Regions from separate parts of the Homo sapiens genome. Here region 2 is linked to region 1. A link means that fine-mapping ties the variant in region 1 to the expression of a gene that starts in the linked region. Tissue or cell type: spleen. Region 1 holds a variant in brackets; the other region holds the start of a gene. All regions are shown on one strand. Distances are between the middles of the regions.

The links.
Region 2: VANGL1 starts here. The variant in region 1 is fine-mapped to the expression of VANGL1 in spleen (GTEx, PIP 0.94).

The regions. Positions count from the first base shown.
Region 1 is chr1:115,592,787-115,598,158 of GRCh38, reverse strand. No RefSeq gene overlaps it. Among named protein-coding and RNA genes, the nearest start is that of VANGL1, 46 kb to the left of the region's middle. RefSeq lists an enhancer at 1,997-2,291. The variant G/A (reference allele first, on the strand shown) is at 3,008.
Region 2 is chr1:115,639,140-115,644,511 of GRCh38, reverse strand. It overlaps VANGL1 (VANGL planar cell polarity protein 1), which reads right to left and starts at 2,542. Exons shown (of 8, transcript NM_138959.3): 1 at 2,426-2,542. RefSeq lists an enhancer at 1,927-2,685 and a silencer at 1,821-2,810.

The DNA.
Region 1 (5,372 bases):
TGGCCTTTTGAAGATTCAGTTGCAGTGCCAGCTAGGTGGCAATACCTTTCAGGGTTAGGGCAAGGTTTTCCACAAAGCTATATATGCTCTGAATCAGCATCTAGTACATGGTGCTCTTTTTCTCATAGCCAGGATTTATAGGTTCAGGAATCAAGGGATGAAAATGGGAGTGACACTACTCAGTACTACCCTTAATGACCCACTAGCAAAATGTTTGCTTCCTGTTCCTATGGCCTTATGCTCAGGTGGCTAAGAGATGTTTGTTCCAAAGGGAGGAATGCTTCACCAAGAGACACAACAATGGTTCTATTGAACTGGAAGTTAAGAATGACACTCAGACACGTTGCGCTCCTCCAAGTCAACAGCCCAAGAAGGAAGTTACAGTGTCAGCTGGGATGATCAATCTGGACACCAAGGGGAAATTGGACTACTGCTCCACAGTGAAGGTAAAGAGGAGTATTCTGGAATATAGTAGATCCCTTAGGATATCTCTTAGTATTATCATGCTCTGTGATGAAGGTCAATGGAAAAGCAAAACAACGCAATTCAGACAAGATTATTAATGGCTCAAACCCTTCAGACAAAAGGTTTATATCACCCCACCAGGTAAAGAACCACAAACAGCTGAGGTGCTTGCTGAAGATAAGGGAAATATGTAATGGGTAGTGGAAGAAGGTAACAAGATATGTATACGTGTGCATATGCGTGTGTGTGTGTGTGTGTGTGTGTGTGTGTGTGTTGAATATCTTTGTTTTCCTCCTCTTTTCCCCTTATCATGTAACATAAGATGTATTAACTTTATGTCATAGTATTTAAGTATTGCTAATTTTATATGATAGTATTTAAGTTTTGGTATGTCACAGAGAAGAGTGAACATAGCTCAAAGACATTGCTTCTTCCTCTGTGGAAGGGTTTATTGTGTTTTCTGTTGTACAAAGGACAGTTGTATCAGTGTAGGTGAAATTATGACCATGTTACCATCTTTGTTTGGAGATTAGCATGGTTCAAGTACATGCATATGCATGCCAAGTTGAGAAGGAGTAGACTTGTGCTGGTTAATTTTTTGTGTCAGCTTGACTTGGCCATGGGGTCAAGTTGGTCAAACATTATCTCTGGGACTGTCTGTGAAGGTGTTTTTGGAAGAGATTAACATTTGAATCAGTAGACTGAATAAAGCAAATTGCGCTCCCTAATTGTGAGTGGCCTTCATCCAATGAGTTGAAGGCCTGATTAGTACAAAATGTCTGCCCCTCCTTTAAGAGGGAAATCCTCCTGCCTGACTGCCTTGAGCCAGGACACAAACTTTCCCTGCCTTTATATTTGCACTGAAATATCAGTTCTTCTTGGGTCTCAAGCCTTCTGGCTTTTGGATGAGAACTCAACCATCAGCTCTCCTGGGTCTCCATCTTGTTGACTGCAGATCCTGGGACCCCTCAGCCTCCATCATTACATGAGCCCATTCTTTCTAATAAATCTCTTTCCAAATATATGTACATCCTGTTTGTCTGGAGAACCCTGACTAATACAAGGGTTATTTGGCGGTTTGGGATGATGTAAAGAGATTAAAAATTCAGAGCTGGCCATGATAATTCTGTGCGTCTGTTCTGGAGACAGAAAGCAACCAGTCAAAAAATAGCAGCTGAAACTCAAGAGACTTTGCCTAAAGATACAGATTTAGGAGTGTTCAGTACAGTTCTCAAAACTCAGTGAGTGCACATAATGATCTGTGCAAAGCAGACACTTAAGAGGCATGGTCCTTCAAGAGACTGGTTCTCAAAATGTAGTCCAGAGACTTGCCTTACAAATTCCTGAGATACTAGTTAGGAAAACACATTATTAGATTCCTCCCCAGACAAACTAAGTTAAAACCTCAGGGTCTGGAGCCCAGGAATTTTTGTGGGGGATCTCACCATGTCACCCAGGGTGGTCTTGAACTCCTGGGTTCAAACGATCCTCCTGTTTCGGCCTCCCAAAGTACTGAGATTACAGCCATGAGTCACTGCGCCCGGCCAGGAGTCCTCATTTTTGACAAGCATCCTAGGTGACCGTCACACACACCAAAGCCTGAGGAAGTGTGCACTGCAAGAAGGCAAACTGCTTTCCTGAGAGAGCTGTCTGACAGGGTGCAGGAGGGCCTCGATCACTAGGTGGCGCCAGACGCACATTTACAGTAATTTTCCAGTGCTGTGGCTTCCTCAGCCAGCATAGAAAAGGAAGCCTCATGGGGCTCCTGGGATTTCTGCCAGCACCTCCTCAAGGGGAGTGAAATACAGAGCTAGCAGGCTGACTAAACTGTAGTCACTGGCACTATCAGTCACCCCCACAATGGTCTGCCTGGAAGAGGCTCCAGTTATTGGCAGAGCGTAAATAAGGAGAATTCTCTGCAAAGCCACCCATTTTGAGCCACAGTGATCCAGCAGGCAGTCTTGGGAAGTAATGGTGTGGATTTCCCAAGACCGAGTCAGGGGCAGAGCTGTAAGAGGCCAGGGGTCCCCCCACATCCCAGACCACCACCGTTCCCAGTCAGGGTATCTTCAGAGAGGACAGAAGCAATCCCTTCTTCTGTCCTAGGAGACCTGATGGTGCTGCAATGGTGCCTAACACTGGCTCTGCCTGCCGCCTGTCTCCAGGCTCAAACAGTCTCCCAGCCTCTCACAGAACTAGAAGCTGACCCTTCCTCCACCCGCTGCTTTCCCCCTTGGCCCCCAGCGCCTCACACTTGAGCTGTTTCCACAGCAACGACTTGCATGCACCTCCGAGTCTCCATGACCTCCTACCAATCTGCACATATCCATGCTGGAGCTTCAAGCACTACTGTTGAGAAGTCGCACCCCTTGCCTGGCATTGAGGACCTGCATCTTCTGGCCCTTTGGTATCAGACTATTGGAGCTCCTTAGGCAGAGAAGTGCTGATGGAGGGGGACTGGGGAGTGAAGAGGAAGACCTGGGGGCCACTGGGCCTCTGGACAAGCACAAAGGCTTCTACTGGATTCTCTGGACCAGAGATA[G/A]CCACAGGGTCTGAGAGGAAGCAAGTCAGCTCTGTGCCTGGTTAGACTGGCGAGCCCACCCAGCTGCCCCCAACCCATCCGCCTAACACAAAGCCCAAGGGGCATCACTTCTGCTTTTCTCGACACAGAGATTCTCTAGGCCCTGAGACAATCCTTATGGTTATTCTGGCTACCCTCTCTTTCCTCAGGTCCCTATGCCTCAGTCTTGCTCTTCCCATATTCAGGGCCCCAGAAAGCAACCCATAGTCCAGGTAGGGACAGCAGCACTCCTGGGGCCCAGGGCAGGGTGTGGGAATCCATCCTGCAATAACGGGACTTGGTTGCGTTCCCAGAGTCAAGGAAACGACCACTTACAAACTAACAGGAGACAGGCCTGGAGTGGTTCCAAGGCTGGGGAAGGCTGTGGAAGGAAGGACTGGGGTCCTTGAGTCCTCACACCCAGATCCAGGGGCACCCACCTTGTATTGCTACAGCCAGTTCCCTTCTTCTCACATTCACAGCCTGCTCTCCTCAGACATACCACATGTTCCCTCATGTCCATCGCCACCTGGAGGGCCACATCAGACAGCCAGGTGTGCAGGCGCAGGGCTAGGAGGGCCCGAGTCTCCCCTGCCCAGAAAGCCTGAAATGTGAGCCCTATACTTTCTCCCAATGTGATTATACAGTTATACATTTTTTGTCAAAAACATTAATTAATAATTTATAAATTGCCCTTTTTATGATCCCGTTATAGCTTTTATCCATTTCTTTAAAATGTAGCAGAAGCTTCAACAGACAGAAGAGAACTGGGCCATTCTCAAATCGTGAAAGGCCCTGCTGTAGAGGATCCCAAAGAATCCAACATGGAGCAGGTGCTTGGGTAGAAGAGTCTTAGCTTGTAGCTCCTCCTCTCCCCTCCCCTCCTCTCCTCGCTAAGGAAACCTTTTGGGTTAAGAGAAACCCACACAATAAATTCTGGTCTGGCCTGGACTTGGAGCAGCCCAGCTTTCCCTTCACTTTCTCTAGGTGGGTGGGCCAGCTCTTCTCTGACACACAAGGAGGCTGTGGTCCACCCAAGAGGGGCCAGGTCTCACAGCCCAGCTTTCCTGGGCTCAGCAGCAGCTGCCCCGCCAAAATCCACACACAGAAAGCACTGGGGTCACTGCAGAGCCTTCTCCAGGAATAAACTCCTAGGCTGGGCTCAGTCACCTGGGGCACCCAGGTCCTCAGGGTCCCCAAAACACATACACCTAGCTGGGGAAAAATCACAAATCATGGGCCCTGACTTCTGGAGGTAAAAGCTTGGCAAGTAGAAGCAGTCACTGGGGATTCAAAATGTGTCAAAGGGCAGCAACCAGGTCAGGCAGCTCTTTCACTTACTAACATCATAGGCCCTGGGGATCCCAGGGAGGAAGTGATGATAATAATATAATAGCTACCATTTACTTTGTGCCAGTAACAGAGCTAAATGTTTTACAGACATTATCTACTTAAATCCTAACAACCAAACTAGAATTTGGATACTGTTTTTCTCACTCCATAGATAAGGAAAATTGAGGGCTAAGAGAGATTAGGTAAACTTGCTGGCTCACCCCAGAGAAAGGGATGGAGGATTCCAGCCCAGATCTGCCTCCCAAGCTTGTAGCACTAGGGTTTCATAACCTTATTTTTGGGAGAAGTGGGACAATCTCTCTGCCAGCAAGCAGATCGTGAGTGGGTCAATGCTACGAGGCTAAGAGGTGTAGCATTGTCAAGAGCCTAAACTTGACCTACCTTATTCCTGGTTTGAAAATCTGATCCCTCTTGAAATCTCAATTCAAATGCTATCTCTTCTCTTAGCACAAGCCATCTCTTCATTAATTCATTCATCTATCACTTAGCCATTCATTCATTACTTGGTCATTCATTCAGTCATCCTATTTTCAGCTCCTGTGTTGTGTCATGTGCTGCTCTTTGCCTTCAGCCTCTCAAGATAACTAAAAACATGCAAGTGCATTGAGAATCTCAGAGGGAGAGGTCTTCTGGATAGAGAAGGAATGAGGGAAGGCTTCCCCGAGGAGGCATTTGAGCTGGGTCTGGAAGGATGTTTTGGTTTGGTGTGGAAATCCTTCTGATGGAGAGGTTTAAGTAGAGATTTTAGGCAGAGGAAACAGCATACTACTGTTGCAGAACTTTCTCCTTAGTTCAGCTAAAACTGGGCTCTTGTCACATGACCAGGAAAGATTAGGCTTGCGAACACAACAGAAGGGTGAGGAAAATGGAATTTATAGGGCAAAAAGGAAAAAGAAAAAATAACTCTCAGCAAAGTGACAGAGTTCTGCTAGCACGTTTCCCGTCTCATAGATTGAGTCCTTGGTCACCACACAGGAACAGGAAAGGCCAGGCT
Region 2 (5,372 bases), 46 kb before region 1:
GCTAACAGAAACATGGTCCAATCACAAGCCCACCTAATCTTTTCCATCTTAAGGAAAATAGAATAGCATGATGCCCAAATCACATGCCCTATACAGCGAGACCCTAACCAGCTAGCTGATTTTACAGAGATGATGGTAATAGTCTAACAGTTTCTAGTTGTCAAGTGTTTACTATGTGTTAGATGCTGTTTTAAGTCACTTACATGTAATATCTCACTTAATCCGCATAACAAGTGTTTAAGAAAAATAAGACATTAATATCATGTTAGTTAGGGAAACCAGACTGCCACAGGAGCCAGGGCTTAAACGTTGAGAGTCTAACTCCAGAACCTGTGTTCTTAGCTACAGAAAATTGACAGCACTGTAGCAATTACTAGAATTGTTTGTTTATATAGAGGAGTATAAGCAACAATCACAAATTGTCCCAAACCACATATAACCCCACTAAGAATTTTGCAATTTCAACTTCTACTCACAGGTTCAGTGTTCCAAGCATCGTGGGGCACTCAGGAGAAAAGAAATGGATCTAAAATAGTTCTAACTCCCAATGAGCTCACAGCCCCAATGTGGAGACCTCCAATTAAAACACAATGTGACAAGGGCCCATCCCACCAAAATAGCTGATAAGGCCTAGGGTAGCAAGCACAGTGTGTGTATATAAGTGTGTTAAGGGGATGATGAAGGGGAGGATGCCTTCTTCATTCAACACATTTATCCTTCAAACAAAGGGTGACATGGAATTGTTGCTTGGTAAAGAAACTTTAAATTTCCTTTATGGTTTTGTCCTGTTGCTTAATACATAAGACAATAAAAATGTACTGCTTGGCAAGCAGTCCTTACAAATATATCACTCTCAAAATTCTTCTCCCATTTTACTTACAAATTAAGTTGCAAGCAAGCCTCACTGCCAACATTGTTAATAGTGAAATTCCACACTGAGTGTTTTCACTAATTATACTGAGAGACATCAACGTTTGGGAATGTTTAATGCTCATGGATAGGTGAAGCGTGTTATTTCTTTGAACTGGAAAAAGAAACAGTTTCCTCCCACAAATCAAAGCCCCAACTATATCACATTGATTTAATTCAACCCTAAAAACTCTATAATTAGTGGTTACAGAAAATGGCTAATTACCTCTCCCTGTATTCAGACAATTTCTGCCATCTCACTTGCAGAGCCTGGGAGCTGTGTACTCAACCCACCCACTGACGGGAGAATGCTAATTAGCATTGTTGACTGGTGATACAAGTTATAATATTTTTCAGCAGCCCCGTAAAATTTATAAACATGTCAGTGAAAATGCCAGATTCTTTTACAGTTTGTTAGCTTTTGGACTAAGTGTCTAAGAATACATTCATTTCTAACCAAAGCCAGGTCAAGAGTTTTAACAAAATGCATGGGCCATCTACACAATCATCATCATAAGGCGCTCTAACACTTCCTAAGGAGAATCTAAGAGAGCTCACAACACCTTCGCAGCGTGGGCATTAGACCTGGTTTGGAGAAGTGAAAACTGAGCAACAGATTCCTCAGCTCCAAGTCTCATCTGCTCATCACACAGCAGCCAGGCCGCGGCTCCGCCCCACTGCTGCCGCCACCACGGACGCGTTTAAATTTTTATAAAGCTTCACACTTCTCTAGGCGCGATGCTTGGGGCAGTTCAAAGACTGCAGAAGGAAATGAGGTCCTGCCGGTGGCGAAGGCTGCCCCGGCGCGGTGAGATTTCCTCCAGCAGGGACACCTTGGGCAGAGACCCGCCAGGCGCCTCTGCTCCACCCCGGCGTTTTTGAAAGTAAACTCCTACCTGCCTGTTGCGCTCTCCGAGGCGCAACCGGACTCGCCCCCCAGGCCTCCAGGGCCGGCTCAATTTTTTGTGAGCGAGGTGTGCACACAGACCAGCTCTGTCCCGGTTCCTGGCGAAGGGCCAGGCGGCGCCCGGGTCGAGCCCCGCCAGGGGTGGGAACCCCGGTGCGCGCCCGGCTCCCGCCCTGCACGGCTGCTGCAGCCGCCCGGTGCCTCCAACGCTCGGCCACTCCCTGCCGGCCTGCCCGCCGCCCCGGCACGCGCACCGAAGGGGCGCACTCCAAAGGCCAGCCCGGGGAGAAAGGGACGTCCGAGGTGTGAGCAGGGAACCCCGGGACCCCAAGGAGTGGGGTGCGGCGGAGATCGCACGGCAGGGCCAGGAGGGGCGCAACGCATGGGGAGAAGAGTGGAGTCAGAGGAAGCACTACCCGGAGCGCTCCGGAGGAGGGGAGGGAGCCCCCGGCCCGAGGCGGGAGCCGGCCACCCGGGGTCGAAGTCCGGCGGGGCGAATGCGGGAGGAGGGCGCAGGGGCACGCGGGGTCCGAGGTGGGGGCGTCTCCCAGCCAACGGTCTGCCCCGGGGACCGCCGCCGCGCAGCGCTCGGCCTCTCGCGGGACTCACCTCCGCGCCGGCCGCCCGAGCTCCGCGGCCCGCGGTCTCGGCTCACAGCGGCCCCGGCTCTGCGGCCTGCGCTGGGCTCCTGGAGAGGCAGAGCCCCGCCGCCGCCGCCGCTGCACTGCTGCTTTCCGCTTCCTGTCCCGGCGCCGCCCCGCAGCCCGAGCCCAGCCCTGCGAGCCCGGCGCGGCCGCGAGCCAAGAACAGCTAGCGCTGCCGGCCCCGCCGCGGGGCCGGCCCACCTGCAGCGGAGGGCGGGGCTCGGCCGGCGTCCCCCTCACCTCGTCACCGCCCCGACCCCACACACCCGGGACACACACGAAGGCGTGCGCGGTCACACTCTTACACACGGACCAGGGAATGACACCTCCCACACTCATTCACCCTCATACACACACTCACCCTACACAGACGTGCACAGCCCAGTAACCCACTCTCTTCTGGGCAGACACACACACTATAAACACATGGCCCAGGGATTGATCTCCGACACCGCCCCCTCCCTCCCCCACATACTTGGAATCTCAAGCTCACACACACACACACACACACACAATCATGCACAAAATCCGAGCCCATTTGCCCTCACGAGTGCCCCCATCCACATATTCACACGGCTCAGGGACTAACCCCCCAACCCCACTCAACACACACTCATATACACACTTTCCAAGAACTGACCGACAAATATCCATATACACCATATCTCAACCCATATACACACACTTAAACTCACATGTAGCCCTGGAAATGACCCCACAAATAGACACACACACACACACACACACACACACACACACACCCCCTACAAGCCACCACAGCAAGCCTCTCCCCTCCTCCTCCCTTATCAGAGCAGGCACTGCCGCCAGCCTAGTCTCCTAGAAACTGCTAGATGAGCACATCTCTGCAGGCAGGTAGCTGAAGCTTCAGTGCTGATTCCAACCAGGTACTGTTTCCTTTCTGAGCCTTTGTTTACCTGTCTGAAAAGTGGTGAGGATGCTGCTGTCCACCTTGCAGGATTGTGGTGAGGATTACAAAACAGTTGGCAACGATTTTCATGAATATTTGCACTTTTCTTAGTTGTCTTGTGTTGGTAGCATTAGGGTTCCTTACTGATCATCTCCAATCTAGCTGGGACCCAAAGCTGCTTACGTGGCAGGATTTTCCAGTGGAAGCAGTGTATAATGAAGTGCTGAATTTCCTAAGAGTTGTCTACAGGAGTATTGCGGGCATTTGGGGTGGGGAAATGCAGGCCCACCCTGACTAGCCTTAATCAGGGAACCTTGGCTCCAAGAACCCCTCACTCCCTTGATCACCTCTTCCTCATCCCTTCTAGACTCCATTTTCTCTCGCATATGTCACATTTCCTTGAGAAGACACCCATATGTTCAATGTGGCTGATTTTCACCACTCCTAGTCCCCAGGCTCTGCTGCCCCACTCAGTGGCCTAGACCATCTTCCTCCCCCACCCCCAGCCTCCCAGTAGGCTCCAGAGAGCAGATGTTGCTGACTCAGGCAGCCAGGTTCCTATGGGTAAAGCCAATGGTCTATTCACCCAAATCAGCACTCAGGGTCAGAAATGTAGAACATTATAAAAACATGTCTCTCTCATCTCTAAAATGTAGAACTTTCAAAGTTCAAACAGGCCAGGGATTTCCAATTCTAGTCATGTACCTGAATAGCTCCAATTAACACAGAGATCTTCAATGAGTTTTCAGAAAGTAATTCTAATTCACTTAGGTTCTTATGTCTAGCCACCTTACCAGATGATGTTTTGTGGGAAAGAGGGGTAGTTGCAAATAACCTATTTTAAAATAATAAATTCACCTTTAAATGCCATGTAGAGGCCGGGCTTGGTGGCTGAAGCTTGTAATCCCAACACTTTGGGAGGCTGAGATGGGCAGATCACTTGGGGTCATGCGTTCAAGACCAGCCTGGCCAACATGGCGAAACCCCATCTCTACTAAAAATAAAAAAATTAGCCAGGCGTGGTGGCAGGCACCTGTAATCCCAGCTACTCAGGAGGCTGAGGCAGGAGAATTGCTTGAACCTAGGAGGCAGATGTTGCAGTGAGCTGATATCATGCCACTGCACTCCAGCCTGGGCAAAACGAGACTCCATCTCAATTAAAAAAAAAAAAAAAAAAACATGCCGGGGGACCTGGGCAAGATGGCTGAATAGGAACAGCTCCAGTATGCAGCTCCCAGCAAGATCAATGCAGAAGGCAGGTGATTTCTGCATTTCCGACTGAGGTACCCAGCTTATCTCATTGGGACTGGTTAGACAGTGGGTGCAGCCTACAGAGGGCGAGCTGAAGCAGGGTGGGGCGTCACCTCACCCAGGGAGCGCAAGGGATTGGGGAACTCCCTCCCCTAGCCAAGGGAAACCATGAGGGACTGTGCTGTGAGGAACAGTACATTCCAGCCCAGATACTATGCTTTTCCCATGGTCTTCACAAACAACAGACCAGGAAAGTCCCTTGGGTGCCTATGCCACCAGAGCCCTGGGTTTCAAGCACAAAACTGGGCGGCCATTTGGGCAGACACTGAGATACCTGCAGAAGGTTTCTTTCATACCTCAGTGGCTCCTGGAATGCCAGTGAGACGTAACTGCTCACTCCCCTGGAATGGGGGCTGAAGCCAGGAAGCCAAGTGGTCTAGCTCAGGGGATTCCACCCCCATGGAGCCCAACAAGCTAAGATCCACTGGCTTGAAATTCTTGCTGCCAGCACAGCAGTCTGAAGTCGACCTGGGATGCTGGAGCTTGTTGAGGGGAGGGGCATCCGCCATTACTGAGGCTTGAGTAGATGATTTTCCCCTGACAGTGTAAAGAAAGCCACTGGGAAGTTTGAACCGAGCAGAGCCCACTGCAGCTCCACAAAGCCACTGTAGCCAGACTTTCTCTCTAGATTCCTCCACTCTGGGCAGGGCATATCTCAGAGAAAGGCAGCAGA